Homo sapiens: one gene and its partner. The protein of the gene in region 2 interacts with the protein of the main gene of each other region in a pairwise test. Each region holds a gene or a part of one and is shown on either strand. Other genes may lie near its edges.

Region 1 (16,031 bases), about 94 Mb from region 2:
TACAGATGTTCTAGGCTTCAATCAAAAACCATCCAGTTGGGCCGGGGCGTAGTGGCTCACACCTGTAATCCCAGCACGTTGGGAGGCCGAGGCGGGCAGATCACTTGAGGTTGGGAGTTCAAGACTAGCCTGACCAACATGGTGAAACCCTGTCTCTACCAAAAATACAAAAATTAGCCAGGCATGGTGGTGGGTGCCTGTAATCCCAGCTACTTGGGAGGCTGAGGCAGGAGAATCACTTGAACCCGGGAGAGAGAGGTTGCAGTGAGCTGAGATTGCGCCACTGCATTACAACCTGGGCGACAGAGCAAGACCCTGTCTCAAAAAACACAACAAAATGAACAACAAACAAACAAACAAACAAACAAACCATCTAGTTGCATGGAGATGCCTGCCGGCCTTCCTTCACTCCCCGTATTCCTAAAAGGCACCTCTAACAGAGGACAGAGCTTTAGCACATGTTTTTATAAGGATGTCGCTGCCAGCTGCATTGCAAAGGAGTTGCCACCAAGATGAAACCGCAAGTGCCACTCAACCAGGGTCACACGCCTATCCATGGGAAACTGCATATATAAATGTGCTCGTGTGATTACAGGAAACACTACAGCATGGCGTGAGGTTTCTTCCTTGGCGACATTCTTTGTTTTCAAAGAATGCAGTCCTCATCTGAGGAAACCCTGCTCCAAGGGAGCTGCCTGATTTGGGGCAGGAGAAAGGCAAAACGTGGGTGAGCCAAGAAGCAGGCCCACGTCTGGCAGGGTCTGATGCATGACTTTAACTGGCACTCCCCAGAAGCGACTGCTGCTGTGCTTTGAAAACATGGAAACAGCTCACAGGCTGGCGGAGGCAGAAGATCCTGGGCTTCTGGTTTTCTGGTGATACTTAGTGGCTGTACCATTTAACATATCCCGGAAAATCAAAGTTTCAGTCCTGGAAACCTTTACCAACACCGCATCCCAGCAATAATGGGCCACCTCCCGAGGGCAGACTCAGTTGGCGTACTGGGCGTAGAAAGCCACTTTGACTCTCTCGATCTGGTGGCATAACTTGATGGCAGGCCCCAGCTTCAGCTCCATGCACTCCTGCACCGTCGGAAGGGTCAGAAGCAGGAGTGCTTGGCCGTCAATATCCTGCAGGAAAAGAAAGGCAGGTTAGAGAAGGGGCAGTGTGCACTGGGGTACACAGATGCGTCACAGCAGGCTCCAGTCCGGGGCCAAACATGACAACAGGATGCTCTTGTTTCATTCAATTCAGGGGATTGTTGGTAGAGATACCAGCCCGGCTTGATGACTGTCTAATCTTTGTGTTACTAAAATCTTTTTGTAGCCGGGCACAGTGGCTCACGCCTATAATTCCAGCACTTTGGAAGGCTGAGGCTGGAGGATCGCTTGAGACCAGGAGTTTGAGACAAGTCTGGGTAACACGGTGAGATACGGTCTCTACAAAAAATTTAAAAATTAGCTGGGCATGGTGGTGCAAACCTGTGATGCCAGCTACTCAGAGGCTGAGGTGGGAGGATCACCTGAACCCAGGAGTTTGAGGTTGCAGTGAGCTGTGATCATACCACTGCCCTCCAGCCTGGGCAACACAGCAGGAGACTCTCTAAACAACAACAAAAAACAACAATACAAATACAAGAGCTTTTGGCTAAGGGCACTCTGGCTACTCTGAAACTCACATACCTACCCTGGTGGGTAGAAAGAGCTGGAACAGGTGGGTTGCTGCGGGAATTGCTTCCCAAGCTTATCGCCCCTTGCTGGGAGGGCAAGTCACTCTCCACCCCAGGCAGGGCCAGGTCCTCCCTAAGTGATGCTGAGACTTCATCTGAGCACTAAGCAAAGGAATCTCTACTAAAAGACAAGGCTCCCTCAGCTCCCTGCCAAGGTCTGGCATTTCACCATTAGGATGGGTGAGAAGATGCTCAAGACAGATATGCCAACGACAGCACAGGTTTCCATAAAGGGAAACACACACACACACACACACACACACACACACACACACACACACACCATTTACAGACACACACTCCCCAGAGCGAGGTGTCGCTCGTACACAGATCTGTTGCCCCACTGTGTCCTGCCTCAGCCTTTCTCTACCTACACACAGGGCATGAAGACATTCATTCAATGAATGTTCAGTTGAATTTGCTGCAGGAGGAAGCATACAAAGACCCACTCCAAAGCTCTAAGACCCTTCCACTGGACATCTCTGTCTCTTCAGCAGCTTGCTTCCTATAGTAATCTGGTTCATTCACATAGATGTCATTTGACCGGACTGCTGACTTTAACCGCAATCCTCCCTCCTATTTACCAAGATGATCTCAATCGTCCAGAGGGAGTCACTGAGGGGTCTGAGAGATTGCAGGCCCCAGGCAATGATGATCAGTGGTACCGTGAGAGCATTAAGTGAGCTCTACATACTGGAATTTCTGCCACTTGCAGAAGAATTATACCCAGGGCTGCCATAAGCCACAAGGACATTAATAGCCAAGCAAAAGCACAAGATCATACGTCTCCGACAACACCTGTCAGTGACTTTCGCACAGGCAGCTTATTTTCTTAAACTAACGGTTTATTTAGCTGTCTTGAAAATATCTAAAGCAAAAAGGCAAAGTGTGTATAAATGGTAGCCTTGAGCAGACTAATCTTCTAAGCAAGCATAGATTCATCATCTGATCAGATTCAAAAGACTAATGTTAAGAGCAGGAATAATTTATCTTCAGATCAGATTCAAAAGCAACAATATTCCCTAATAAGTACTGTAGCAATAAAAATGCAACATTAACTTTAAAAGTATCAATGTGAGTGTCATTTTTTATTTTTAAATTACAGATGAGCACTAGCTATGATGTAAGCAACTCGAAGCCACGTTCAACCAAGACCAAAGGTGACCTTATCAAATCACAAAGTAAACAGATCTGTCTTGTATACACACTGAAAGCAGGAGACAAACTGTAGAAAACTGTCACTATATTTTCATGCTATGTTTATATCATTTTTCCCTTGCTCTATAGTGCTCATACATGTTATTTTACTTTCTTTTCAGATGCTACAGAAAAGGCTGATTGCAGCTGGGGGGATTTGGGAGTACTGTGAAATAAGTGTTTGGCTCTAGGTCGCGAAGAAACCAAGGGGACCTCTGGCCTGGGGCCTGTAGGCCAATTCCACTTTCAGAGCCAAATCCACATGTAATACATCAAATTACACCAAGAGGGCATGGGTGTAGGGACTCAAAGTCTTCCAGGTACCATGGGCCTCATAAAAACACATTTTAAGTAGGCAGAGGGCTGATGTTCTATTCTGTTCTGTTCTGTGGATGTCATTAAACCATGGACAGTTGGCTTAACCATTATGTTCAATGACATCCATAGAACAGGAAAGAATAGAAATAGAACTTATTTTACTTTCCCAGGAAGTTTACTTTCCTGGTGAAAATTAATGCCCAGAAAAGCTAGCCAATCTAACTATGATCACATAGCTAGTTAGAGAAAGTGTTGGCATGAGAACTGTAGTTTTCTGACATTAAACTTTGAAGGGAAAACTGTAGCTCAGTCTTTAACATCTGTACTTGGGCATGATGGTGATTCAATCACCACTGACTATCAGCACGAAAATATTCGTGTAACTCTTTCTTTACAGAAAATTTCAGTGAAGGTGGCCAATGCATGTACCACATTTCAGTGCAGATGCACACACTCATGTATTTACTTGCCAATATTTATTGAGCATCTACTAAGTGGCAGGCACTTGGCTGGCCTCTGGGGAATGTCACAGTGAACAAAGGAAAGGTTCCCTCTCTGGACATCCCATGAATCTGGAGGGTGGCAGACAAGTAAACAGACTATTAGGATACAGGGATATTAACATATGGATGCAGAGCTAAGGGCTCAAACAGGACAGGCAACCAAGCCAGTCTTATAGGGGTGCTGAAAGGGCTTCGAACTGAGACTTCAGGGACCAGTAAGAATTATTAAGGCCAAGAGGGACTGAAAGAACACAGCTAGTTCCCTGGAACATAGAATTCCAGGAAACTGGGGAGACACCAAAGGTAAAATCATGACGAGCCCAGAAAGCCACTTTATCTGGAAGACTATTTTTTCTTTCAAGGATTATTTAGGTAACAGCATACCTCACAGGTGGTTTGATTTTTATAAACATGTTCCTATAGAACTGAGAGCTGCCGGCAGATCACTTTTAATGTTAAACACAGAACTACCATCAATGGACTAATTGTAAAGAAATGAAATATGATAAGATATACGACATGCTTAGCACAGGGCAAAATTAAATCGATTTTGATAGAGCACTCGGGTGAGGATCTGGTAGTTCCTAATGGAGGTATTGAGATCTAGAGAAGTAGAGAAAGGACAGCTTAATCTGGACTAAACCTATAAACTATCCTGAAATTTTTTCATTAAGGTCAGTTGAGCATTTGAGCAGTCTGCTTATTGCGCTGTCTCTGACTGATGAAAGCTGAATACATAGGTAAAATTTTATTTAGAGTGTTGTATGTGCTTAGTTATAGATGAGTGGATTTTTACTGTGTAATGTACAGGTTTGCAGCATGAGATTATGGAGTATAGATTTTTTAAGCGGTTGCCATAACATTTCAGAAATAAAAGGCACAGACGCTGGTCATGGGGAGTTCAGAATTTTTGCAAATTATAATAATCTCTGCATTTATAACGTTCAGGGCCTGCGTGCACATAGCGATGACCATGCTGTGCACTGTGATCTCATTCGCATGCCAGTGAAGAAAGTCTCTGGGTTCCTTCTAGCTCACCTGTAATCTCAGACAATGCCTGCGGTGACCTACCGGAGGCCTCACCAACTCAGAGCTGGAGTATTTGGGCTAAATGACGATGAACCAATTAGTAAAAATTAGTAATTAAAGGTCTGATGGGACAGAAAAGGACTCAAGTGCCCATGTACTTCAGACAGCCCAGTGGGCAATGGCTTTTTATTCCAACAGGTGAACTTGCCTAATGTGAAATGTGAAATTACACAGGAATGAGATGATGATCAATGAAAGTCTATCTATTTTTCTCTCTCGTAAGAGAAACAAGTAGGGATGAAAGGCAAGGCTTTTACTAATATTAGAAGAGCAATAGGGCAGAACTCTGTCTAGTACAAAAATTAGCCAGGCATGGTGGCGGGTGCCTGTAATTCCAGCTACTCAGGAGGCTGAGGCAGGAGAATCGCTTGAACCCGGGAGGCGGAGGTTGCAGTGAGCCGAGATCGCGCCATTGCACTCTAGCCTGGGTTACAAGAGTAAAACTCCATCTCAAAAAAAAAAAAGAGCAACTTGATTCTACAAGGGGGACAGTGTCGGCAGTGTTCCATTTCCTAGAAGGCTTAGCTTAGGGAAGGCATGAAACTTTTCTCTGGTGTTATCAACTGGGCTTAGGAATATAAGAAAGGAAGACTCAATACTTTAGGCTTTTCCCCATACCAGCTTTGTTTCACTTTCTTGCTTATTACTGAGAACTTGTACACAGTGTAGACAGACACAGGAGCTATTGACGTTTCAAGGTATAAGCCCTCATACCTAACCTGGGATCTAGAAATGAGAAATCTGCTCTTCATTCAGGCCTAACTAAATTTTTTTTTATTGTGAAAACTAAGCATTTGAGCCTAAAAATAAAACCAAAACATTAGAGTAATACAGAATGCCACACCTTGTATCTTTAGCTATCAGAAGGCACCTCGCAGGGACTGAATCGGTGTATGTTGAATGCACACAGGGACTGACAGATACGCATCAGTGCAACCAAACCTGCGTGATCAGCGCAACCAAACATGCATGACCAGCGCTTGTCACGTATTTGAATACAACGCTTATCTCGCCGCAGCACCACTGTCAATAAATGCCAGACAGGCAACGTGCTGTGCTGGGCAGCGCTTTACACAGCATTTCAACCTATTGCTTTAATTTTGTTTTCAAAATGGAGATGTGGCTTATCAATAAGCCCCCGATCACCTAAGCCCTTGTATTTCTTACAATTGTCTTTCTTTCCTGTTTGTGTGTTATTTAAAGGGACAAGCTCATCACCCAGGTTCTTTAGGTCTAAGGAAGTCTCTCCCTGGTTGCTTTTCAGAGTTGTCCAGACAGGAAGGGTGGCCAGTGTGAGAAGGTGAGGAGGTGACTCCCTCTGCCTCCAATCATTCTTTTTTCTTTCTTTCTTTTTGCTTGTTTTTGAGATGGAGTCTTACTCTGTTGCCCAGGCTGGAGTGCAGTGACACGATCTCGGCTCACTGCTACCTCTCCCTCCCAGGTTCAAGCAATTCTCTTGCCTCAGCCTCCCAAGTAGCTGGGATTACAGGCACCCACCACCACGCCCAGCTAATTTTTTTTTTTTCTTCAGTAGAGACAGGGTTTTGCCACGTTGGCCAGGCTGGTCTCGAACTCCTGACCTCAAGTGATCTGCCTGTCTCGGCCTCCCAAAGTGTTAGGATTACAGGCATAAGCCGCCATGGCCGGCCTAATCATTCTTTCAGCATGAACTTAGTGGGTGTCTGCAGAAGGTTCTAGTGGTTGTCAATAGGATGAACTACTTCATCTCTTGGACTTCTCGGGACACAGGGGAAAGAACTACTCTCTTTGGGTGGCACTGGAGACCATTTTAATTTGCTTTTTCCAGTTCATTGCTGCATGAACTTGGGAGAAAAGCTGGGAAATTTTCTGGGTACACAGGAAGTCACAGACCTTTTATGTTTCCTGATTTAATGCTGGAAATATCCTCTTTCTAGACTACTGATTTATATGATCTAAAAAGAGACTGAATAAACCTATCTTTAACATTATATGAAAAACAGTACTTTTTTTTTAACATGAGGTCTTTGAACACAGATATTTACACCAGGACAACGCAAGAAACTTCAACAAATTAAGCACAGAGTACAGCAAGAGCCTGGCATTTTCTGCAAGGCCAGTGAGGCAGGATGCAAGGTGGTGTGTGTGCAGAGTGGCAACTTGTTTCCGTATTAATTTAAGGGATAATGTAAATAAAAACCCTCTCTTCTTCCTTAGGACACAGCATCATATGATCTTGTGTTTTAGCTAACTATACTCATTTCATCTGCTGGACTATAGGCTCCTTTAAGGTAGAAATTATATCGACTGTTATTGCATTTGTCCATCACCATACCATGGTCTTAAAAATATTTTATGCAGAAAGAAGTGAGGAAGGTAAGAAAACAATGACGAAAGCAGCATTCAGTACGACACACCAGCCAGCGGGCTTCTGCTCTGGGCAGGCCAGGTGGATACACTGTTCCCTCCTTCTCCCACTAGGCCTAAGTAAGATCCATGGGCATTATATACAAATTCACAAACAGAAGACTCTGGAAGGTGGAGAAAGGAGGGCAGACCGGCTAGGGGCCTGGGCCCCCAGCTGACAGCACAGTGCTGAGCTCTCTGGTTGTTGTGGTTGCTGTTTGTGTGTGAGCTTCATGCCCCTGAGACTTGGAGCTGAAGAAGCTGCAACCCAGATTTGCCAAAAGGCACTGACAGGAGGCTCAACCAAAACCAGTTCTCTCCAGACAAAGGCCTGGCCAAGGGGTGGCCCAGCAAGACAAAAAACCGTGAGACAGCAGCATCTCTTCTGCAGCTGAACATCACAGGGAGGGCTGGACGGACCCCACTGAGAGCAGCCAAGGCAGAGTGTGCTATCCTGACTTCCGGCCTGGCCAGGTGGCAACTGGGCACCCCATCCCACCACTGACCTGGCATCTGAAAGGGCCAGCCAGGGAACTGGGACTCTCACCCCTGCCTGGTGGTAAAGAGCCCCCACTGTAGAGTCGGTGGAGATGGCAGGGGGAGCGTGGACTCGCACCCCTCACCTGGCAGCAACAGGCACCTCCCACCCCTGCTGGGTGGTGTCACTAGAGCCTGGAAGAGTCACCCCTCCGCCCCCCACCATGGCACTGGTGGGGCCTGAGAGGAGCAGGAATGAGGCTCTGTCTCTCGTCCCTGCCAGGCAGCTCTCAGCAGGGGCCTTGGAGGGAGAAGGGTCTCGCACACCTGCCGAGCAGCGCCGAAGAACCCCCTCGCAGGTGTCACGAGGAAGCCGGCTAGGACACGAGGTTCATTTCAGATGCAGAGTCTCAGCACATCAAACAATCGACACGCGGCAACCACCGTACCTGCTCCTGAAATATCTTGGCCAAGGGGGCACAGTCTGTCAGCTTAATGAACCTCACCACGTCGGTGACCGTCCACTCCAACGGGTTGCTCTCCAGAACCAGTCTCTCCTCCTCCTCCTGTTTCGTGTCCTGCAGAGAAAGGGCAGGAGGAGCTCAGCTGCGGCACAGTCAGCTGGCTGGGTCCTCTCCAGCACTCTCCAGGCCTCGGCCGTTCCTGGCCGGAAGCCACTGCCTCCCTTTGCTCCCTCACTGGGCACCTGAAAAAGCTGCACACACTCTCAGTCCCTGAGAAAGTTCTTGGCTCAGTGATGATGCCCCCTGCAATGACTCATGTGCCTTCAGATGGAAGAAGGCAGGCACAGTGACAGTCGCTCTTGCATCCCTAGTTCAGGAAACCTTGGGCCTGCTTATGAACGAAGCATCTCTGATTAGAGAAAAGAGGAGAAATACAAGGGGCACGTCCAAGCAGACACGAGACAGTGTCCCCCAGTGTTTCTGTAATGGTGGTGCCAGTGGCCCTTTCTGCTGATCTCACACCACCCATGGGGCTAGGGGAGACCTGAAACACTGATTAAATATTTTAAAACATCACAGAGGTGTCCTATAGAGGGGACGTGGGAGCAAGACACAGCGCAGTCAGGGGAGATGCGGGGAAGGAATTTCTGGAAACCCAGACTTCAAAGGAAACTGAGGACTGTGCCCTCCTCCTGACAAGAACCCAGGTGGCACTAAAGCCGTCCAGGAAAGAGGCGCTGTCTCCACCCTGGGCACTCCATTCTGATGCCGAAAGGCCCCTCCACCCAGAGGTGAAGTGCCAGCCTTTGTTCCTGACTTGGGAACTAGCTAGAGCAGCTGCTGCTGTTGGAGGTATTTTAAACAGGTTTCCCCACATCGTGGCCCTGAAGTGTAACAGGTGTGCTTCTTCAGACCCAGCGGGAAGCCCTCTGTCCCCACGCCCGGGCATCACCTCTGTCCCCTCGGGCTTGGTCGGCGGGCACTTCTCCCCTTCCTCTGCTGAGGAGGCAGCCGGCGCCCCGCGGCCCCTTCGTGTCCTCTCTGGGGGTGGCCGGCGCACGGGCTCTGAGCCGCTCCGCAGGGTGACGGCCCTCCGGGGCCGGGCCGAGGGCACCTCCGCCGACGAGGTGTCCGTCTGGTCATCCCGGAGCTCGGAGCCGGTCTCCTCACTGGCGGTGTCATCGTCCATGGCGTCAGCGTCCTCCTCTTCACTTTCCTGGGAAGGAGGAAAAGGCATTTAAGGGGCTGGTGGCCCGGGGGCCTGTAGCGGTGGCCCCGCGGTCAGACCCTGGGCCCAGTGCAGACCACCTAGCAAACCCTCGGAAATGGAGCCAGTGGTCCCACCCGTGGGCCCTACGAGGCCCTTCCCAGCCAAAGCAGCTGGACACACTACATTTGTTTTCAGCAAGTAAGGAGGAGGGGGCTCTTCTTCAGTGTTTCTGACCATCTTGCCACAATCTCCAGGGCCACCTCTGCTGTGAAGCAGCCACACTTGCCGGCCAGGGCCAGATGACAGAGCTACAGGCTGGCAGGTGCCCCGGGCAGAACATACCTCCCCCGAGCCCGCGGTGAAGTCCACGGCAGAAGACCTCCGTTTCTTCTGCACGAAAATGGATTTCCGTCGCTTCCTCCGCCTGGCGGGTTTGGGGTGTCCGCTGTCGGGGTTGCTTTCCCCGATGGGGGGCTTGGAGATCTTCTTTCTCTTTCCATAGTAATAGGCTGTAGGAAGGAAGATGAGAAACTTTTGAAGGCTATACACACACACAGACATGAACAGAGAGAGGAGAGAGAAAGAAGGGAAACGATTCTTTCATCTGATAGTTCATTTGTGCCTTACGAAGTCATTCTGAGAAAACAGACCCACAGGAGAAGCACTGCTCCAAAGCTTCAGGTCTGGAAGGTGTTCGGGCTGAACTTGGCCCGTCCCCAGTGTTGAAGCCCAAACCCCCAAAGTGAGTGTATCTGGATGTCCCGAACCCCCAAAGTGAGTGTACAAGGGTGGGGCCCTAATCCAATAGGACATTAATGAGGTCCTAAGAGTGTCCAGGAGAGACACCAAGGACCCAAGACCCAAAGGAGAGGCCCCATGAGGACACAGGGTGCAGGTGGCTGCCTGAGGCCCAGGAAGGATCTCATCAGAAACCAAAGCTGCTGACACCCTGATCTTGGACTTCCAGCTTCCAGGACTGTGGGAGGTAAGTGTGCGCAGTGAAAGCTCAGGGTCTGTGGTATGTTGTTGTAAGCCAGAGCTGACTTCTGCAGAAGGTGAAAGAGACAAAGGTGTCCACAGTTCCCACGGGAGTTTATCCCTGTCTGGACCCCAGACACTGCATACAGTGGTGGCAATGACATCCACCGGAGTGCTCTGACACCTGCTCCCAAGTCTGAATCTTGAGCGACTGGTCAGTCAGCAAGCACTGGGTGAACATCTGCTGGCGTGGTCCTGGCATGAGGGACTCCCCCAGCTCTTGGTCCGACCAAGATAAGCTATGATCCTGAACACGTGGGCCAAATTCACCAAGCACTTTTCCTCTTCTCAGAGTTCCTTCTCTATTACATCATTGTATACTTTATTTCCTTCTCATTTGCTGGGACTCACATTGCTTCTGAATTCTACAGCAGAGACACAGGTGTACATCTTAATTCAAAAATTATTTATTGAACTTTAGTAGTGATTAATGTTTTTTATAAACAAAATGTATCATCAGCTAATGAAAACCACCACTAAGGATCCAGCATTCAATTACGACCCAGACGCCTACTCATTAATAAAAGGTTCAACCGTCCCACTATGTGATGCCCATGAGCCACAAAATAACTGAATGCAGCCAAGGAACCTTTATCTACGAATGGGGTGGGCCAAAGCAAAATGGCAAATGCACCACCCCTGGTTTGCAGCAGCCCCGTTGCAGGGAGCATGATTTTAGTGCATTCTCACAGTACTGAGTCGTGGGCTTTGTCCTACAGGTAAGTCACCTATCCTTTCTGCACCCCAATTTCCTTACTTACAAAATGAGACCATCAGGACTAACAAGCATAGGTTTCCTTCAGGCCTAAGACCCTCTATGTCCCACCTCCTCCCCTGCGTTTGATCACAGCATGGCATTTGGAAAAACTGTCGGGAAGCCGCACAGCAGCAGCCCTGTAACTCCCAGGAGGCACACCTGCTCCGGGAGCCCCGGCCTGTTCTCATCAATCTCTCAAAAGGAGCAGCTGGCAGGAGAGCTTGGAACAATGTCCCGTGTCCAGTTCTATAAGGACCGTGTTACTCAGTGAGCAGGAATAAACTGCCGTGGGCGAGCATTGCTCTGTGGCCATCTCCAGGTACGGGGCAAATGAGCAAGCCTCTGTCCCCTCCCAAACCCCAAGCGTGCATGACAGGGCCAGGGCAGGCTGGCTTCTTAGAAGCCAGTGGCTGGGGATGAGAACTGGTTTTAGGGAATGCAGCCAAAGGCCAGTATGTGTTTGGAGCCTTAGAACGAGACTGGGTGACCCCTGCTTTTCCAGTGTTTGACTCCCCCAAAATATCATTCTGTCCTCCTCCCACTGGAGCCTCTGTTCAGCCTTTAGTAACATTCATTATAAATTAACCCAAAGGATCTTGGGACTTAAGAGTTTTATTATATGAGATCCGGAGACATCTCTGAGTTCATTTCGGCAATGCTGAATGGGAGGTGTGGGACCCTGCTCCTTCCCTGCCATTCCCAGTGTCCTGGAAGAACACAGAAGCCCACCTGGCAGGTAAGCATTCACCGTACACGGCAAAGGCGAGCCCTCGGTTAGGCCTTTCTTACTCAGGAGCTGCTGTTTCCCAGTGAAGCCCTCCCCTGGAAAAAGGTGCAGTGATGGAGAAACAAGCTCTTCCGGAACCAGGTGACCTGCTGGGCCAACACACCTGCGGGCCCTACCTGAGAGGCCCTGTGCACAGAATGAGGGGAGGTCTGTGTGATCAGTGAGGGCACAGCTGGCCTCCATCAGAAGGCAGAGTGGCAAGGGGACTCTGTGTGTGTGTGTGTGTTGTGTGTGTGTAGAAACACACTGAGAGATAATAAAATACAAAGAAAGTCACACTCTGCACAGCGTTTCCAGTACATTCAGATTCCTGGTTCCAGCACCCATGTTGACAAACGTCACAAGTGACTGTGGCTCACAGAGCACTGGCCACATGGCCAAGCCCTTGTCACATCCCAGCTGGCTGGAACGTGGCTGGCAGAGCTAACTTCCAGGTCACTCCCCCTTGCATTAGAGAGAACTGAGGGGAGACGCAGGAAACTCAGAACTGTGGGTCAGAGGGAGAGAACAGGACTCAGGCACAGGAGGTGGAGGTGTCTGGGAGTGGCTACTATGGATGGAGAAGGTCATCAGAAAGAAAGAAGGGCAGGGCTCAGGGGAAGCGGTTGCCCAAGGCCAGACATCCTCGAATGGGACTGGGGATGGAAGAGGCAAGAGCTGAAGGTAGGAGAGTGGGGACAGCTCTGAGTCCTGCACCCTGTGTCCTGGGAGAGAGGCAAAGCCAACTGGCAGAAAAGAAAGTGATGGTGGCTTCTGAGTCCTCCATGGCTCTCTTCAGTGAGGGTGCTGAGGAAGGCGTCTAAACATGAGAAGCCGATTATGACAAGGATGTGGCCCCCGTATCAAGAAGGGCAATGAAAGCATCATTACACTATCCCAGAGTAAGGACTGAAAGAGTCATCTGGGTTACTGTTACTGTGATCAATTTTACTGTGCTCTCCTGCCATCCATTGAGCTGTAGAATCAATCAATCCACTGAAACTCATGACAGTACACACAGTTCCTCTTCTTCTTTTCCAAGGCCTACCAATGAAAATTCATCCTGTTTTAAATCATCCCATCCCCTCCGTATGTCAGGCTAAAAACACATGTATCTGCTACAGCAAATCCTTAAAAATCCTTCCATAGCAATTCCTATGGAAGACTAGTCAAAAGGTTCAAAAAGAAAAAAGCAAATGAAACAAAAACCAAATACCTTAGAGTGCAGTTTAGGTCTCTGGGCTCATGCATTTCTTTTTTCATTATTTGTACTTACTGTATTTGGTTTTGGTATGAATGGAGCAGTTCTCTGGGCAGTTTTCAGATATCAGCACAGGACTAAACAAATTTGGACAGCACTCTAGCTTGGCACAGACTCGGCGGCAGAAATTTGCGACTTGGTCAGATGTCCGTACGATTTTGACCACAGCCCTGTATGTTTTGCCTCTGTATCTAGAAAATAGGTGGGGAAGAAAAGCGAGGGCAAGACCAGATTATGATTCAGGCCTATTCTGTACCACACATTCCGAAGGCAGCAACTTCATTTTCCAATGACAAAGCATATCGCGTGCAGTTTCCCATGTTGCTTCTGTTATTTCTCACAGAGATATTTATAAGAAGTGCTCACTAGTGTGCAACAAATGTGTCGTAACAGTGCTAAACCAGAATCCACTTCCATAAACACCCCCACATGTAGCACACCTTCATTTTGCTATATACAACTTCATACCAAAGATGAGCGGTGCGGGATACATACCTGATGGGCATGGCTCTCGAAATGAGGTTAGTGAAATCGAATGGGTATTTTCCTGTTGCTATCATATTTCATTTTTGAAAAATGTGAGTGCATATGGGATCAGGATTCTGCCTTGAAAACCATGCAAATTCAGAACACTGAAAGGATATCTTTGTCAAGACTGTGTATCATATTGTTGAAATGGGGACGATTTCCATTATTCATAAATGGCATCTGTGCAGAATGGTGATAGGTAAGCAAGGTCACATTTAAATGGACAGAAACACAATGGATTTTATAAGGGGAAAAAAAGAAAGAAAAAAGCTACCATTAAAAATGCAGAGTGACTGTATGATTGGGACCTGGAAACCGAGTGAAGACCCCCAGCCTTGCAGACACTGGCAGCAAGTGGCTTCAGTGTAAACAGAATCGTAAGGGGTCTCCGGTGGATGAGTGGCAGTTAAAGGAAAAGGCTGCTGTATCTCTCAAGTGTAAAGGGAGCAACGTGAAATGGTAATGCCGCTTGCCATACTCTGCCCATGAGGGTAACTGGCCACTCCTCTCCTCTAGGTTGGGATGGTGAAAGATTGCTCCAGGAACTAAAACTTGCTTCCACCTGCTCTCCAGTCCCCCCAGCAACCCCCTCCATGGCTTCGGTTGCTTTCTCCGAAGCAGTAAATCGAATCCTTTCTGAACATGCACACCTTCACCGCAATTCCCCACAGACTCAAATCTTGATTGAGTGATAGATAGTGGATGAAATCATACTGCAAGGAGAATGCACGCTGGAATCAACAGTACTTCATATGCATCTCTATTTCTTATTAGACTGAGGTCTTTGGAAAGCTACAGTCTATTTGTGTATTAGGAAAAAATAAAAGGCATTTCTCCAGTTAAATCTCCCCCCGCCCCCCGCAAAAAGCGGTAAATCTAACTGAGGGGCCTCACATAGGAGACCTTCATTCTTATTATATGGATTGAACCATGTCCCTCCTAAATTCATAGGTTGAAGCCATAACCCCCGATAGGACTGTAATTGAAGATGGGGCTTTCAATGAGGTAATTAAATTAAACGAGGTTATAAGGGTGGGGACCTAATCCCATAGGAGTGGCGGCCTTGTAAGAAGATGAAAAGTTTGAGTGTGGAGGTTCATCCTTGTCATCTCAGCTCTTTGGGAGGCCGAGGCAGGAGGACTGCTAGAGCCCAGAGGTTTAAGACCAGACTGAGCAGCATAGCGAGACCCCCATCTCTACAAAAAATTTAAAAACTATGGGCACGGTGGGGCACTACTGGGGAGGCTGAGAAGGCTGAGGCAGGAGGATTCCTTGAGCACAGGCGGTCAAGGCTGCAATAAGCTATGATTGTACCACTGTACTCCAGCCTGGGCGACACAGTGGGGCTCTGTCTCTTAAAAAAAAAAAGAAGAAGAAGAAGAAGAAGTTGAAAAGCCACCAGGGGTGTACATGCACAGAGACTAGACCATGTGAGGGCAGAGGGAGAAGGTGGCCATCCACAAGCCAAAAAGAGAAGCTTAAGGAGAAACCAACCCTGGCACCTTCATCTTGGACTTTAGGCCTCCAGAGCACTGAGAGAATAAACATCGTTGCAAAAGCCATGTGGCCTGTGGCTCTTTGCTGCACAGCCTGGGCTGACTGAGACAAGGCTCATTCCTCCGGTGGTGGGGGGTGACAAGAATGGGGACCCCCGGACTGCCTGCCTGCACCTCCCCACCACCCACACAGCAGCTTCTCCTGACCATGGCTGCTGCCTGCTTGTACCTTTCCTTCTCGGTTCACATCTTCTAAGGTTTCTCTGAGGTCCTCCTTAAGCACTTGTCTCTGATCTTAGAGGAAACACCAATCTAGATGAAGGGTATGGAAGTTTTCCCCAAAACCTTTTCAACGCACTAGGAAAACGAGAGTTCTGGAAATCCAAACGCCTTTTATAGTTATCCACAAGGAACTGATTTTATATATGGGAATCCAAAAACGTCAACAAACATTGCTTGAAGAGATGGCACTGTCTTGCCATCATATATAAATATCAAGTGCAATACTGCTTTCCTTAAACGTAACTATTTAGTGAAGAATAAAAATTAAGCTCCTCGCATCCCTCCCCACACCCACCCACACAACAAAGAATTTAGAGTGAGACATGCTTCTGGAACCTAGATATTGTCACTTGTTGCTCATCACTTTTAAGAAAAAAACTTTCTCCTGCCCCAAGAAAAACCGCAGGTAATGAATTCACCAGTGTAAAACTGGCAACCAGAGCTACAAAAAGCAGATTCGATGGGTTCTTGTTTTAAAATTAGGCACTACAGCCCTTATCCAAATATTTATGGGAATATGATATACATAAT
Region 2 (16,822 bases):
CTCCCCAGGGGCTGACACTGAGAGGAGAGGAGGCAACCCGGGGCTTGCATTCCCATATGGAAGCTATAGCCTGGAGAGGCTGCCCCCATTTAGTGGGGAATGTGTTCTCTAGTTCTACAGTACCGCCCCTCTCCTCACTGAGGCTCAGTAGTAGGTGCCTCTTATTATCATGCCCATGCAGACACTAGACAATGATCATCATTTTCTAATTTGTAGGAATGTGGTGAAGATTAAATGAGTCAGTACTCATGAAGTGCTTAGAACAGTCTCTGGCCCATAATAAGGTTCAGTAAGCGTTGGCCATTGTCATTGCTGTTGTTAAGAAATATTTCTTTAATCCCAAGGCTTTATAAAAGTTAGGAAAATCGACCTGATTCACTCACTTCAGTTACCTACCTAGCCCCTGTAAGCATAAGTGCGAGACCACTCTTTGTACCACTTGAAGCCAGAAATCTAGAATTTTGTGTGAAATCTTTTGGTTTTTAAATGTTGCTCCGTGTCTTTAAACAACTCTTGGCCGGGTGCAGCAGCTCATGCCTGTAATCCCAGCACTTTGGGAAGGCGAGGATGGAGGATGGCTTGAGCCCAGGAATTCAAGATCAGCCTGGGCAATATAGCAAGACCCCGTCTCTACAAAATTTTTAAAATTAGCCAGACATGGCGGCATGTGCCTGTAGTCCCAGCTACTCGAGAGGCTAAGGTGGGAGAATCACCAGAGCCCGGGAGGTTGAGACTATAATGAGCCATGATTGCACCACTGCACTCCAGCCTTGGCTGTTCAGTGCCACCAATACACACAAGTATGAAATATGAACACAGATTACAGCAATGACTTTTAAATATTTCGACCATGGCCCAAAGCAGGGGCCACAGGAATACCTTTTACATCACTACCATATAAAATATATATACAATTGAAGAAGTAAAAAGTTGCAAAACAACACATGCCCATATGTTGTGTGCAGTGAACAGACATTCTCTATTCCATTGTCTTTTTCTTTTTTAAAAACATGGTCTGTAACCCATTACATCAATTTCAAAATCCTCTAAGGAGCTGCTAACCGGGTGTGAAAAACACCTAAATATGGGATAGAATCCCTAAAATCAATATTTCCCCAAGAGTTTCTTATATTTCAGATGTACGAGTAATATCTACGCCTATCAATGCCTACCACCACCACTGGTAAACAAGATAACTCTAGAAGAAACTTGGATATATTTATATTTTTAAACTAGTTATATATTTTTACTAGTATTAGTTTTTAGTTATCTTCCATTTTAGGAAATTGATACTGATTTTCCACTTACGGGAATGATTTAAAGTTTTCTCCTAAAATAAATGTACTTAAATTTAAAAAGCAATTTAAGGAAAAACATTAATAAACAGCATAGGAAATATTCAGACATGTTGAAAATCACAAATACGTGTCTCATGTATCTGAAGTGTGGGAAACTATCTGGCACCATTCTATCATGATAGAACAAGAAATGGACGTTCCTTCACATTAGATCTGCTTTTGCGCAGCTCTACTAATTACTCCCAGAACGTTAGGTTACATGACATGATATTAGTTTACATTTGGCTTTTCCCCAGCAGCCGCTTAAACCTGGGAGGTCCTTTTTCCAAGCACTTGGGCAGTTTCGAGTTTGGCATCCTTTTGCACAGTGATTTGTGTGGATCTTGAGATGCTGTGAGCTTGCCATCCCTTCTTGAGATCATCACGTGGTCTGTCTTTCTCTGTCAGGCTTTCAAGTTAATTATTTCCTGTTTTTCTGAGTCTGTTCCTTATCCCCCTTCCCAGGCCACCCTCTACCCTCACCTTCACCTCCCCCCAGCAGTTCTACAGAAAATCAGTCTTTGTCTCTTGGCCTGCCCTAGAACACCTTCCAACAAGAGCCTTGGAGTTAATTAAATGTGTGGCAATTTCAGAGCAAAAATTTATTACTGGGTACAATCAGAAATTACTTTTAGAGTTCTTTGCTTTTTGGTAACATTCTCTGTCACTTACTGACCTTTTGTTCTCAGTCCCTGCCTGCTTAAGGTACTGTGTGAACCAATCTGCCCAAGCTGTTTTCTCTCTGTGTGACTGCTTAAGATCTCTGGCATGAGTTATACTGTCACTCCTCTCAGGAACTCCCACGTTGGGCTTGATTTTCCCAGCAAACTTGATCTGTTGTTCATGTAACATTGTTTCTGCTGCTGTCCCATTCCTTCTCATCAAGGCCAGAGCCCCCTCCTCCTGTTGTCTTTAACAAGGCAGGGTGCTAAACTGAGCTGAGCTGCACCCCCACAGAAGCTTTGTGCAAAGAAGCCACTCCATTTCTTCAATCTTTGCATCCTCATCCCATCCCCATGCCCAGAAATCTTCCCAAACTAGCCTTTTATGGTCATCCAGCCTTAATTTCTCTTTTCTTCCAAATCCCAGCTAAGTTTTGTCTTAAGTCTCTAACTGGGTTTGGTTACATTGTTCAATGTCCTTTCCCCCCAGTAACCCCCCTGCCATCCTAGTTTTCTCTCCCCTATTAGCTCCTCCTAAGCACGCATCTGAACTCCTTAAATCTTTTACCTAGTGTAGTTTCCTGGTCATCTCCTTTTAGCCCACTACAAATTGAAGTGTAAAAAACCCTTACAATAAACATGTGTGCGTGCACACGCATGCATGGTATATACGTACACATTTAAACTAGGAGAAAGGATATAAACACAAAATAGACTGTCCAGTACTATTTGGGGGTGGGAGGTGGAGAAGAGCCCTAGGCCCTAGAAGTTCCCCTGGGGTTCTTATTAATATGTTGAACATATTTCACCCTGCAACCCAAATCTGTACCACTTTCGTACACAGCTTAAACAAAGAAGAGTCTTGATGCTTATTGAGGATTTAGATAACTACTTCCCGTTAAGAAGATATTTTTAAAATTGTGTTTTCATTATGACTCCATCTCCATTTATTGATCGAGGGATTTCTTGCCTCACTTAACTCCATAATCTGTTACTCAGATTAAGAAAATGAGAAAACTATTGTTTGGTAGTTTGAGTACAGGCTTTAAAGTGATACTTTGGAGGCTGGATGATTCAAGTACTATAATCCAAGAAAAGCAACTAAATGATCATGCAGAACGTGTTTTTATGCATTACTCTTTATCGATTAGGCATGCAAGGAAATGAATCGGATTAAATGTTTCGTAGATGTGCTCTGTTATAGTACAGAAACTTCCTAGTGTAAAAACATCCAACAGAAAGCACTAAGAGATAGGAAATAATACATGTAAAATGCAAATGTGTAAGTCATTCAACACATTTTGAGTATCATGTTTTTTTATGTAAAAAACAATGTTACGTATAGTAAATTCTCCGCTATTAGGAGCAGAAAAGTACCCTCTATTTTGGCACTTCCCTTCTTCCGCCACCATTAGCTAGTATACAGCTGTACATATGTGCTTTTGGGGTGAATGTGAAACCTGTATATTCACTGTTTACCTTCGACCCTCTACTTTGCCAGCTTTTTGTCCACTTTATTCCTTATTAATTCTTCCTCCCGGGGACTAAAGGGGAAGGGAAAAGGAGGTGAACTTGGAGTCAGTCAGGCATGCTTAGTGACCAGAACAGTTCAATTTCGTTTTTTCTAAATTTTAATTAATTAATTTATTTTTGAGACAGGGTCTTGCTATGTTGCCCAGGCTAGTCTCCAACTCCCGGGCTCAAGCTATCCACCTGCCTTGGCCTCCCAAACTGCTGGGATTATAGATGTGAGCAACTGTATCAGGCCAATAGTTCAATTTCTATACAATAAACTTGAAAGACCCGTCCAAATTATTTTATATCATTTAAGATTTTTTTCCATCCAACTGATTAAATAACTCTGTCAATTAAAGCTTGGACATCTTGAAATTGATATTTTGGTTGTTAACAGTTATTGCAACAGTATTTGACCTGTCTCTGGAAGATTTTGTAAAGAAGTAAAATTCGCTGTAGGAATCTATCTGGGGAAGAAAGGGAACTATAATTTGCTCTGTACCTGTTACATGAGAGAATCTGAACTGTGCAGTGTACACTGTTTTATCCTTTTATGGTTTACAATTACCCAGAAAAGTGAGTAAAATGCCCGTTTTACAGATGTGGAGGCTGAGGTTCAGAGATACTGACCAGTCTCTCGGTTTATAAGGAAAACCATGGCTAACAGCCTCCAGAGCACAAGCCCTTTACAAAGGAGGGTTGGAGATTGCAGGCAGCTTTTACTTATCTATGCTGCCCACGCTTAACATGGAAAACTGAAAGCTGACCTTGTGTTCCTTTAAAAAATCTCCAAGGAAGTCGGCTGCAGAGACTTCATGGTAACTCATGAGAAACAAAATGCTTTTGTGGATTAACAACTGTCTTTATTCCAATGGAGTTTTTTGGGGGTTTTTTCTTCTTCTTAAAGACAAAAAAATAATCTACCGCTGACACTCAACAAGAACCGTCGTAGAATGGACAAGTCTTCGGATCGCGCTGTGCAGATCCCTCAGCAAATTGTGACAGTATTATGGCACTTTGGCCTAAGCTGTTAAAGAGACGATGTAATGAACAGCTGCGGATTTCTGAGGCACAATTGTGTGACACAGGAAGCCCAAGTGTTGGCCATCCTCAACGAAGGCAGCTGCCGGGCTCCGGTTTGCTTCAGCAAACCCTCACCCCTCGCCTTCAACCAGGCGGGTGTCGTCAGCTGTCCGCCAGCTGCTGCCCGCGCCTTTCCGCCCCCGCGCGCCGGCCAAGGCCGAGGCGGCCGGGACCAGAGGCGCGCGCCCTCAGTGCATGTGACGGGGTGGGAGGGGGAGGTTTCTTCCTCCCCCGTCCCCAAGCCCCGCCTTCTCCAGAGAGGCTGCGGCTTCCTATTGCGCCACCACCGAAATGACCACCGTGCCAGCCAATCAAGACGTGATTCATGAAGTAAGACCCGCCCCTTACTGGTCCCCAGGTTCCTTCCCGCTCACGCCGGAGTCACTTCCGAAGAGAGAACCGCCATGAAGAGAGAAGGGGGTGCCGCCCACCTCTGCTCCGACAGCCTCCCGGAGTCCCAGCAGCAAGACGGCAACCACGCACCCAACTTCTCCAGCCACGGCTCATGCCGCCGTCGCCAGCGGCGCCGACATGACAAGGCGCTGCATGCCCGCTAGGCCAGGTTTCCCCTCATCCCCAGCCCCGGGGTCGTCGCCCCCGCGCTGCCATCTGAGACCCGGTAGTACCGCCCATGCTGCAGCGGGAAAGAGAACAGAGAGTCCTGGGGACAGGTACCGTGCAGAGGGCTTGAGAAGGGGCCGGGTCGCGGGGGCAAGGGTATGAGGGGAGGGCTGCAGACCGCCGCTCTTCCAGTTCCCGCCATCCTCCGCGAGCTCAGGCGTTGGCATTTCGGGGCCTGGCAAATCCCCGCCCCGCCTCCGCGCAGGGGCTACTGGGAGTTGGAGTTTGCTTCTCTGTAGTTGGGCAGCTGCTCTTGGTCTAGTGACCACCAGCCTGGACAGCTACGGAGAACCCGCCTTAGGTAGAAAGAAAGTGATTTTTTTCCTTTGCAAGAGTTTGACCCGGGACCCTAACTGCTTAATGCATATTTAGATCGTTTTCTGTACGTTGTCAGTTCTACTGATCCTAGTGGTTTAGTAATATAAACCTTTTCTATGTTGTGGGTGAAATTATGTAACCTGTGATGAGGGAATCCCTTCCACGAATTACTTTGTAGTCCAGCGTGCACGCTAGTTCATACTTAAAAGAACTTGCAGATTTGGAATGTGACGTGTTTTCTCTTTCAGTAACTTCACGCCTCTCCAAGAGGCTAATTTTTTTGTAAAGATTTTGTGGGAGCTATGTAATGAGATGGGGAGTTTCATCTAATGACATCCTCTGACAATAAAACATGTTTAAATTCCCTACGAACTTGGTACTGTCTTTTATTTTAAGTTAAATTGTATTAAGTTTTAACAATATTCATGTTACTAATACTGTGGTACAGGCCCACAATCCCTTATCTTAACTCTGAAAGCCAGAAAGCTATGAAAACCAAAACGTTTTCAGTAAGTTTGGCACCACATCTTACTGGGCAGCCAGATCTGACTAAAACTAATGTAAGGCTGTTTGTGGTCTTTATCCCATTAAGTGTGAATATTCATGTTTTGCTGGAGAAATGTCAGTGGATTTGATTACAGGTTGCAGCACCAGACCCCACTGGGGACTTTCCATAATACATCCAAGTTATCCCCTTCCTAAAATCTGATAAATTCAGAATTCTAAAACACATTTGGCCCCAGAAGGTTCAGATAAGGGTTTGTGAAACTGTTATAATTGTGTGTGTGTGTGTGTTTTTTTTTAAGCCAGTTGTTAAATAAGCAGTGGACATTTTGTGTGCATATGAACTTAGAGAACCTACCTCTTGAAAGTTACATTCATGGTTATTTTACAGGTTTCTTGTATGTTTTACCCAAAATCATTTTTTCTCTTTCTGGTGTATTAATCAAAAAGGAGTCTGAGGTCCAATATTTTAGGGAAGAGATACAGTGTTACATTTAGTAAAATGCATTTAGAATTATCTTGTGTGCAACAAATGAGCTGCTTCTGGGTCCCTTCCCATCTCTCCTCAATCAATAACAAGATCAATAACAAGGTATCATCCTTCTTCCCTTTGCAGAACCTCCAACATTTACTCTGGTGGAGTTAATTTGCCTAGTATAATTTATGTAAACAAATGCATATATTCTTCCATAGCCCGTCACTCATATTCATCTCATAAGCACTTAGCTTTTATACCAGCATCTCAAACAAGCGTGATGGACTTGGTAAACCAGTAAAGATGTGCATTGCTCTTCTAATGTGACCAGTAAAGTGTACAAGAAGCTTAACCTTCAAGAAACTTGGATTGTTGGAATTTTCACTGAGCATTCCAACCTCATAGTGGATGAATGTTTAGGGAAATCAATAGTCTATAGCTTATTCTCTTTCAGTAAAATGATACATTTTAGCAAAATTTACCAGAAAGTTAATTTTTTGTTCAGCATATCATAACATCCCCTTTTTTGCAGCTGACAACTCTACAGTGAACAAATCAGAATACGAATTCTGGTAATGGATTCCTATTTCACTTTAGCATTATTGCCAATGTCAGAACTTGATTAGTTAAGCCAGATAATGAAATCCAGTCTTTACGGTACAGAAATTCTTAAAAATTAATTTGGTTTTTGTTATTCTTGTTAACTTTCTTCCTTTTCTCCTTGTGTTTTTCCCAAGCAATGTGTTATTTTTGTAACTATCTTAAGGATTCTTTGATAAAAAATTAAGAATTTGAAACTAGTTGTGACAACTCATTCTAATTTCTGCTGTTACTTAGATTAACATCTTAATGTATAAAGAGGGTAGCATAAGTTTGGTATTTTTCTTTTCTGCCCTTGTCCAGCAAACTCCTCTTCAACTGATTCCCTAGATCAGCCAAATCACCTGTATTGCCATTCTACCATCTACTGTTCTACTCTTGTTATGAGAGTCTGTTCAAGTTTTACTCCATTTTTATAATCCCCATTATTCATTTGGCATACATCTATTGAGTTTTTTTTTAGCTTGTTATTCTAAATTTTAAAACGCAGCTGTGCTTAGATACCAAGTAATTATTTTGTATCAATGTCTGCAGAGAACAAGTAGGTTCATATGCTGATACCCAAGATGTTGCATTCTACCATGTAGCCGTGAACATTTCAGTCTTAAGAAGCACTCTGTACTAATTCCTTGGGTCTACACACCAGTCTGACCTATTTAAGTACTATAAATAATATAAACCTCAGTTGTATTTTTATAAATGAACTCCTATAGGAAGTGATACGTTATATTTTCTGTTTTTTTAATGAACAGTTTAGCAAAGCATTGTTACCATTGTCAGAACTTTATTAAACCAAATAGTGAAATCCAGCCTTTATTTTATAAATCTTTCTCCATTTAATCTGAGTTATGAAGGTTTTAATATTTGCTTATATGATGCCATATTATGCTTTTATTTTCAGGAAGCAGTCAATTATAGATTTCTTCAAACCAGCTTCAAAACAAGGTATGTACACTGTTGATGCATTTTTTGTGGGCTATTTTGGGGGTGAGGAGAGAGACAGATTCAACTTTAAAACCTACTCTAAACTGTTTTAGTAAACGTAGTGTTCAAAATTGAAAATAAAATGAAGATGCAGTATTTTGTTTTACAAGGATAAACTGAAGTTCTAAATATGAAAGTCTTTTTGCTGTTATGTTTTCTTACATTTAAAATATTATTCTAGTAAAAAATTTAATGTTCATAATACATACTATTTTGATTCTCTAATACAGTAATTTATAGAGCCATAGGGAGGTTATATGATGTACCAAAAGAGAGCTTTATGAAACTAAGGCTTTTAACAAATAAATCATCTCTTAATTTCTCCTATACCCCCCAATAAAGTGTGTATCATTATCCAAGTTGTTGGTTTGAAAATTTTTGTGGTAACATTAGTATAGTTTAATTTATATTTTAAACATTAATAATTTAGATAAATATTAAATATTTTACTAACATGCAATTTGTATGTGTTTTAATTGGCTATTTAGACAGACACATGTTGGATTCACCACAAAAATCAAACATCAAATATGGAGGAAGTAGATTGTCTATCACTGGGACAGAGCAGTTTGAAAGGAAACTATCCTCACCAAAAGAATCTAAACCCAAAAGGGTGCCACCAGAAAAGAGCCCTATTATAGAAGCTTTCATGAAAGGTGTTAAAGAGCACCATGAAGATCATGGTATACATGAGTCACGTCGGCCTTGTCTGTCACTAGCCTCCAAATATTTAGCCAAAGGAACAAATATCTATGTTCCTTCTTCATATCACTTGCCAAAGGAGATGAAGTCACTAAAGAAAAAACATCGATCCCCAGAGAGAAGGAAGTCACTATTCATTCATGAAAATAATGAGAAGAATGATAGAGATCGAGGCAAAACCAATGCAGACTCCAAAAAGCAGACCACAGTGGCAGAAGCTGACATCTTCAATAACAGCTCCAGAAGCCTTAGCAGCAGGAGCAGCCTGTCCAGGCACCACCCGGAAGAAAGCCCACTGGGAGCTAAATTCCAGTTGTCACTAGCTTCTTACTGCAGAGAACGAGAACTAAAGAGGTTGAGAAAGGAGCAAATGGAGCAGAGAATCAACTCCGAGAATTCTTTCTCAGAAGCAAGCAGTCTTTCCTTAAAATCTAGTATAGAAAGAAAATATAAACCAAGGCAGGAACAAAGGAAACAGAATGACATCATACCTGGAAAAAATAATCTGTCAAATGTGGTATGTGTAAGAATTATTGAATTAGCATTGCTACTGCTATGTCATATTTAGAATACTAAATTTAAAAATATTTAAGAGTTGTTACATCACATTGACGTCTTTCCTGAAGGAAATACTTATGCACAGTTTGTGTAGAAGCTGGTTTCATTACATTTCCTCCAGTTGCCCTTCATCGAACTCAGTAAAGCAGTGTTTCTTATCCTTAGTTTTTTCAGACTGGGAACAAAGATCTTTTTTAGTCAGAAAAGTAAGCATTCTTTTTTTTTAAGGCAAGTATAGTCTTACTTATTTATGTGTAGACAGTCTTGCTCTGTTGCTCATGCTGGAGTGCTATGGCGTGATCATGTCTCATTGCAGTCTCAAACTCCTGGGCTCAAATGATGCTCTCACCTCAGCTTCCCAAGTAGTCGAGACTCCAGGTACCTGCCACCATATTTGACTAATTTTTGTATTTTTTTGTAGAGACAGGTCTCCCTATACTGCCCAGGCTGGCCTTGAACCCCTGGCCTCAAGCGATCCTCCTGCTTCCTGTACTTTGGGAGGCCTAGGTGGAAGGATTGCTTGAGCTCAGGAGTTTGAGACCAGCCAGAGCCACATATCGAGACCTTGGCTCTACTACAAATAAATAAATAAATAAATAACCAGTCATGGTGGCATGTGCCTGTTCTCCTAGCTACTTAGGAGGCTAAGGTGGGAGGCTCGCTTGAGCCCAGGAGATCAAGGTTGCAGTGAGTTTGATCACACCATTGCACTCCAGCCTGGGTGACAGAGCGAGACCTTGTCTCAAAAATACAGTGTTCTAATATAATATTCTTGAATTATTGATATAAACGTAAATCAGCATTTTGAAAACTGACTTCATTTTTATGATATTTTTACATGTTTATGATACAAATGCCCTTAATTTTTATGACAAAAACCTTAAGATCTTTAAATATTTTATTATAGACATTAGGATTTACCTCCAAATATGGGTGCTTGCCTTATTCAATCTAGAAATCTGTGTTTAAATGTTAGGAAGAATGCCTTCACATTCTTTACTGTCCCCAACACTTAATTAATTTTATCTCATTGTGCTCATAGGAAAATGGACATCTCTCAAGAAAAAGATCCTCTTCTGATTCATGGGAACCTACTTCAGGTAGAATCAAAATTAAATTTATGGATTTCTAAATAAATTTCCATTTTAATGGCACTGCTTTTTAAAATAAATTTGTTTAAATATGCAGTTCCCTTCTTGGGGATGAATTAAGTGTCTCATATTAATTAAGAGTTTGGTAAGATCATATTAAAAAAGACTAGTCCCTGAATCTAGTACTTATAATTTGGGTTTGTTTTTGAGACAGGGTCTTACTCTGTCACCCAGGCTGGGATGCAGTGGCATGATCACGACTCAACTGCAAGCCTTGACCTCCTGGCCTCGAATGATTCTCCCACCTCAGCTTCCTGAGTAGCTGGGACTACAGATGTGGGCAACTATGCCTGGTTAATTTCTTGTATTTTTGTAGAGACGAGGTTTCGCCACGTTGCCCAGGCTGGTCTCAAACTCCTGAGCTCATGAGCCACCACACCTGACCTAGTGCATATAATTTGTAATCTGTCTTGAATCTCTGCCCTCTTCAGGAGTTCCTAACAGTATGTTTCTCATACTGGTATTCAGTGTTTCCTTCTGAATCCTTGGCTACATCAGGAAACATAATCTTTTTTTTTTTTTTTTTTTTTTTTTTTTTGAGACAGAGTCTCGCTCTGTCGCCCAGGCTGGAGTGCAGTGGTGTAATTTGGCTCATTGCAAGCTCCGCCTCCCGGGTTCACACCATTCTCCTGCCTCAGCCTCCCAAATATCTGGGACTACAGGCGCCCACCACCATGCCCGACTAATTTTTTGTATTTTTAGTGGAGACGGGGTTTCACCACGTTAGCCAGGATGGTCTCGATCTCCTGACCTCGTGATCTGCCCACCTCGGCCTCCCAAAGTGCTGGGATTACAGGCATGAGCCACTGCACCGGGCCCCCAGGAAACATAATCTTATTATCTTGGAATTGTAGACTGAGTTGTTGGTATTATGTTGAAGATGCTTTGTATAGGGTTGAGACTGTTACCATGATAAAAAGCAGTGTTCTCTAATATTTCAAATCCAAGGATCCCTTTTTAATATTAAATTTCAAGGATATCTACATGACATTAGTTTGTACTTTTAGCATTTATTGATTGAAAAAAATATAAAATAACAAATCTGTTAATTCAGTACATTTTATCTTTTTTTAAAACTAGAAAATAGAAGATTAAAAAGGCAAACACTGCAGAAGTTTGCAACAAGAAATGAAAGGTCTCCACAACTAACAACAGTTAATAGTCTAGTGTATCCGATTTTTTTCCTGATGTGACTATACATTTTGAAAAACAAATTCCCACATTCAGTAAGATACATTGGACACGATAATAATAGCTGGCTTTCATTGAGTACTTACTGTGTGCTATGCCATTTTATGTGCTTCTAATTCGTTTGAACCTCATAACTTTATATGATAGTGGTTTACTTTTAGAGATGGAAAAGCCAAAGTACAGAGAGTCAGTTCTAATTCCTCCTTCAGGTTTCATCTACTTCATTTTATTTATATTTTAGAGGTGCATTGCATTTTGACCAAGAACTCTCAACTGGTAAAATCAATCTTCAGCCAAGGCTGAAACCATATTTTACCATTATAGAAGGAACTTCTAGGATACAGGAATAAATCTAAAGTTTTGTGTGTTTTTTGTTTATTTAATTTTTATAATGTTGCTGATTTTATGACCAAATTTTAGTGAATTTTGACATTATTGTAGAAGAACAGGAATTTCTCAGCCAGGAGATTGCTTCTGCACTCACTGTATTGCACATTTTTAATACTAAATACATGATCACCTTGCACCAAAGTTAATGGAAGAACAAAATATTATTTTATATAAGGGGCTGCTGCTGGTGGTGTGGCTACCACATTATTCCTTTTCTTTTTTCTCTGACTTAAGATTTGAAAAAATCTTTTCATTTCCTGGATTTGCAAATTTCATTCATGGTGGCTAAAGTAGTTTCATTTATATAATCCCACCTAGCAAAGTTTTTGAGTACTGCTTGGAAAAGATGCTTTCTACATATTTTCAGAGGCTGACTTATGATGGTTGCCGTCACTTATATTTTTATTACCAATATTTTTGCATGTGTTTCATAATCACTAATAATTATAGCATTATACTCTTAATAAATATACATTTATACTTCAATTGACTAACATCAACAGAATTTCAACATGTAAAGGACAAGGGGATATTTCAATCTAGATAGCATGAAGAATGCTTATTGTGTCTGATAGCAAAATTATTAAAAATCTAAGCCAGGCGCAGTGGTTCATGCCTGTAATCCCAGCACTTTGGGAGGCCAAGGCAGATGGATCACCTGAGGTCAGGAGTTCGAGACCAGCCTGGCCAACATGGTGAGACCTCGTCTCTACTAAAATTACAAAAATTAGCTGGGCATGGTGCCCAAGCCTGTAATCCCAGCTACTCAGGAGGCCAAGGCAGGAAAATTGCTTGAACCTGGAAGGTGGAGGTTGCAGTGAGCTGAGATGGTGCCACTGCACTCCAGCCTGGGTGTCAGAGCAGGACTCAATCTCGAAAAAAATAAATAAATAAAAATAAAAATCCAAATGATATGTCTTGTTCATCTTGTTAATACACTTAATCAATTGTCATGGTAATGTACATAATCACGCAATCATTAATCACATACAAGTTCAGGGATTTCAGAAGTAATGTTAGACTAGGCATTTAGCCCTTTGGTCTTCTAGAGCCCTGTCTTTTGGCTGAATTGTGAGGGGAAATTTAATCCATTGCTAGTACATTTCGTAACTGATTAATAACCAATCACCTATTAATGGCCTTTGGATTTTTCCTTTTTCTTGAGATGGAGTCTCACTGTCTCCTAGGCTGGAGTGCAGTGGTGAGATTGTAGCTCACTTGCAGCACTGAACTCCTGGGCTGAAGCAATCCTCCTGCCTCAGCCTCCCAAAGTGCTGGGATTACGGGCGTGAGCCACCATGCCCAGCCTCCTTTTTTTCTTTTTACAAACTCAATCTCTCTCTTATATGAATATTTTATGTATTAGTATATTTGAAATATTTGAAAAACTGTAAAACAAATATTCTCTACAGGCTGACAAAGGATACAAAAAGAATTATGAACATTTTGCAATTAATCACCTGACCTGAAGAGCTTGCTAAAGGGGATCCTACCTGCAGTACCAATTCACTTTTCTCTAATTCTAGATGATGAAACCCCTTAATAAGCTGACTTATCCTAAACATCTTCCACAAACAGTGTTTGTCTCCTCCTGGATCAACCCTGAATAATGCCTGAGCAAAGCAGGAATTTCTCCTCATTTCTAGCTATATTTAAATTATCTGACTTCTCTAGAAAAATGGAACAAAACTCAAACTGGCAGCTCTGTAGCTCATTTTTTGTAATCCCATACTTAAAAGTAAGATAATGAGCCAAATCTTCTCTTTTGTTTAGTCATTTAATTTCTCATCCTGTTACCCCTGTCCTTTTTGTAAGACATTTAACCCCAGAAAACTGAATAGGATGGAATGATTTCCTCAGGTAATGGGAGATATCTGTAAAAGAGCAGAGATAAGGGCATTTGTTAATTAGTTAATTTAATTTTTATAAATTGAATTTTTCAGATTATATATTGATCAAGCTATCCAAATAATAATTGCCTCTCAAGTTTGGTTTTGGCGGGTTTATTTTATTTTATTTACTCATTTTGATTCAAGGTCTTACTCTGGTGCCCAGGCTGGAGTGCAATGGCACAATTACAGCTCACTGTAGCCTCACGGGGCTCAAGCAGTCCTCCCACCTGAGCCTCCAAGTAGGTGGGACTACAGGCACATGCCACTGCACCCGGCTAATTTTTGTATTTTTTGTAGAGACTATTTCACCATGTTGCCTAGGCTGGTCTCAAACTCCTGAGCCCAAGTGATCCTCCCAAAGTGCTGGGATTACAGGCATGAGCCACTAGACATGGCCAAAAGATAAGAAATTTTCTAACTAGAGAAGGGATTGACGGGGTTGTACTTTTCGCAGAGGCAGGGTTTCACCTGAGCTCACGAACTCCCACCTTGGCCTCCCAAAGTTGTGGTATTACAGGCATGAGCCACTGTGCCCAGCCATTTTAGGTTTTTAAAGCAACTCTTGGGGAATGGAGACATCTGTCCATGTGCAGAAAATTTGATTTAGGGAAATCTGGTTTGGGGAATACTGATTGCACAAATAGTGAATTTTTTGTGTTTTTTTTTGTTGTTGTTTTGTTTTTTTGAGTTGAAGTCTTGCTTTGGTACCTAGGCTGGTCTTGAACTCCTGGGCTCAAGTTATCTTCCCACCTCAGCCTCCTGAGTAGCTGGGACTATATAGGCACACACCACTGCACCAGGTTAAAGTGAATTTTTTTTTTTTTTTTTGAAACGGAGTCTTGCTCTGTTGCCCAGACTGGCGTGCAGTGGTGCCGTCTTGGCTCAGTGCAACCACCACCTCCCAGGTTCAAGCGATTCTCCTGTCTTGGCCTCCCAAGTAGCTGGGAGTACAGGCACGCACCACCATGCCTGGCTAATTTTTGTATTTTCAGTAGAGACAGGGTTTCACCATGTTGGCCAGGCTGGTCTCAAACTCCTGACCTCAAGTGATCTGCCCACTCCGGCCTCCCAAAATGCTGGGATTACAGGTGTGACCCACCGCACTCAGCCCACAATATGAATTTTTAAAAACTGGTTCATTCAAATGTATGTGGTTATTAAAGTACTTCTGGATGGGGCTATAATAAATATAGCTTATATTAGTTTCCTAGGGCTGCCATAACAAAGTGCCAAAACCAGGGTGGCTTAAAACAACAGGAATTATTGTTTCACAGTTCTGGAAGCTAGAAGTTTGAAATCAGGATATCAATAGGGCCGTAATGTCTCTGGCAACTCTAGGGGAGAATACTTCCTTACCTCGTCTAGCTTCTGGTGTTTGCCTGCAATCTTTGGCATTTCTTGACTTACAGCTGCATCACTCCAGTCACATAGCATCTTTTCCTTGTGTATTTTCACCTTGTATTCCCTCTGTGCATGTCTGTCTTTGTCTCCAAAGACAAAGACACCTTTTGTAAGTACACCAGTCATACTGCATTGGGACACAGCGTGATTTTTTTTTTTTTAATGAGAAATTAACATTTATCTGCCTTCAAGTGTTTATCCTATACGTGTTTTAAGGTACTATACATTTAAATGTAGAAGTGTTACATTTCTGCAACCAGGTAGTCCTAGGTCTAAAAGAATTTCCAGAAGTACCTATGGCATCCTTAACTTGGTACAAATATGCAGTTGTTTGTTTTAGGGAGTGGCATCTTTAATTCTGTTAAGGTGGTAAACTTTTCATAGCTTTGGAATGAAAATGAGCATTTGTCATTAGCTTTAAATTTCTTGGACACCAGTATTTATCCAGTTGATAAGTAACTCTTTTTCTGCATTCCATATATGGTGACTAATCTCAGCCTTAATACTTAGAATTTTAAACCTTTCATTAGGGTGTTCTAGACACTGAATAAACTTTACTAAAGTTGGAAAGTATATTTTTCACTAATCTAACAAAAATTAAATTTTAGCAGGCTCTAAGCAGAATAAATTCCCTGAAAAAAGAAAAAGGAACTCTGTGGACTCAGATCTGAAAAGCACAAGAGAATCTATGATACCAAAAGCAAGAGAGTCCTTCCTTGAGAAGCGTCCTGATGGACCACATCAGAAAGAAAAATTTATAAAACATATTGCACTGAAGACACCTGGTGATGTGTTGCGCTTAGAAGATATATCCAAGGAACCGAGTGATGAAACTGATGGCTCTTCTGCAGGCTTGGCACCTTCAAATTCTGGCAATTCTGGCCACCATTCTACCAGGAATAGTGACCAAATCCAAGTGGCAGGTACCAAGGAGACTAAGATGCAGAAACCCCACTTACCTTTATCTCAGGAAAAGTCTGCAATTAAAAAAGCTAGCAACCTTCAGAAAAATAAAACCGCTAGCTCCACGACAAAGGAGAAGGAGACAAAACTACCTTTACTTTCCCGTGTTCCAAGTGCTGGTTCCTCTCTAGTACCATTAAATGCTAAAAATTGTGCTCTTCCAGTTTCTAAAAAAGATAAAGAGCGTTCCTCATCTAAAGAATGTTCTGGGCATTCTACAGAATCCACCAAACACAAGGAACACAAAGCAAAGACTAATAAGGCCGATTCTAATGTATCTTCAGGGAAAATTTCTGGGGGACCTTTGCGCTCAGAATATGGCACTCCTACAAAGTCTCCCCCTGCTGCTTTGGAAGTTGTGCCATGTATCCCAAGCCCTGCAGCACCTTCAGATAAAGCCCCTTCAGAAGGAGAGAGTTCAGGAAATTCCAATGCAGGTAGCAGTGCACTGAAAAGAAAACTAAGGGGTGATTTT

The links.
Region 1: the proteins of SLF2 (region 2) and SFMBT2 interact in binary tests that used the Homo sapiens proteins (3 or more experiments, as listed by UniProt).

The regions. Positions count from the first base shown.
Region 1 is NC_000010.11:7,162,781-7,178,811, forward strand, and holds part of SFMBT2 (scm-like with four MBT domains protein 2), read right to left. Parts: intron 13,386-16,031; coding exon 13,210-13,385; intron 9,882-13,209; coding exon 9,715-9,881; intron 9,379-9,714; coding exon 9,115-9,378; intron 8,277-9,114; coding exon 8,148-8,276; intron 1,131-8,147; coding exon 990-1,130; 3' UTR 1-989.
Region 2 is NC_000010.11:100,907,983-100,924,804, forward strand, and holds the start of SLF2 (SMC5-SMC6 complex localization factor protein 2), read left to right. Parts: upstream 1-4,980; 5' UTR 4,981-5,128; coding exon 5,129-5,268; coding exon of another isoform or gene 5,269-5,320; exon of another isoform or gene 5,321-7,087; intron 7,088-8,016; coding exon 8,017-8,060; intron 8,061-8,587; coding exon 8,588-9,318; intron 9,319-10,401; coding exon 10,402-10,459; intron 10,460-15,992; coding exon 15,993-16,822. UniProt on the Homo sapiens protein: Plays a role in the DNA damage response (DDR) pathway by regulating postreplication repair of UV-damaged DNA and genomic stability maintenance.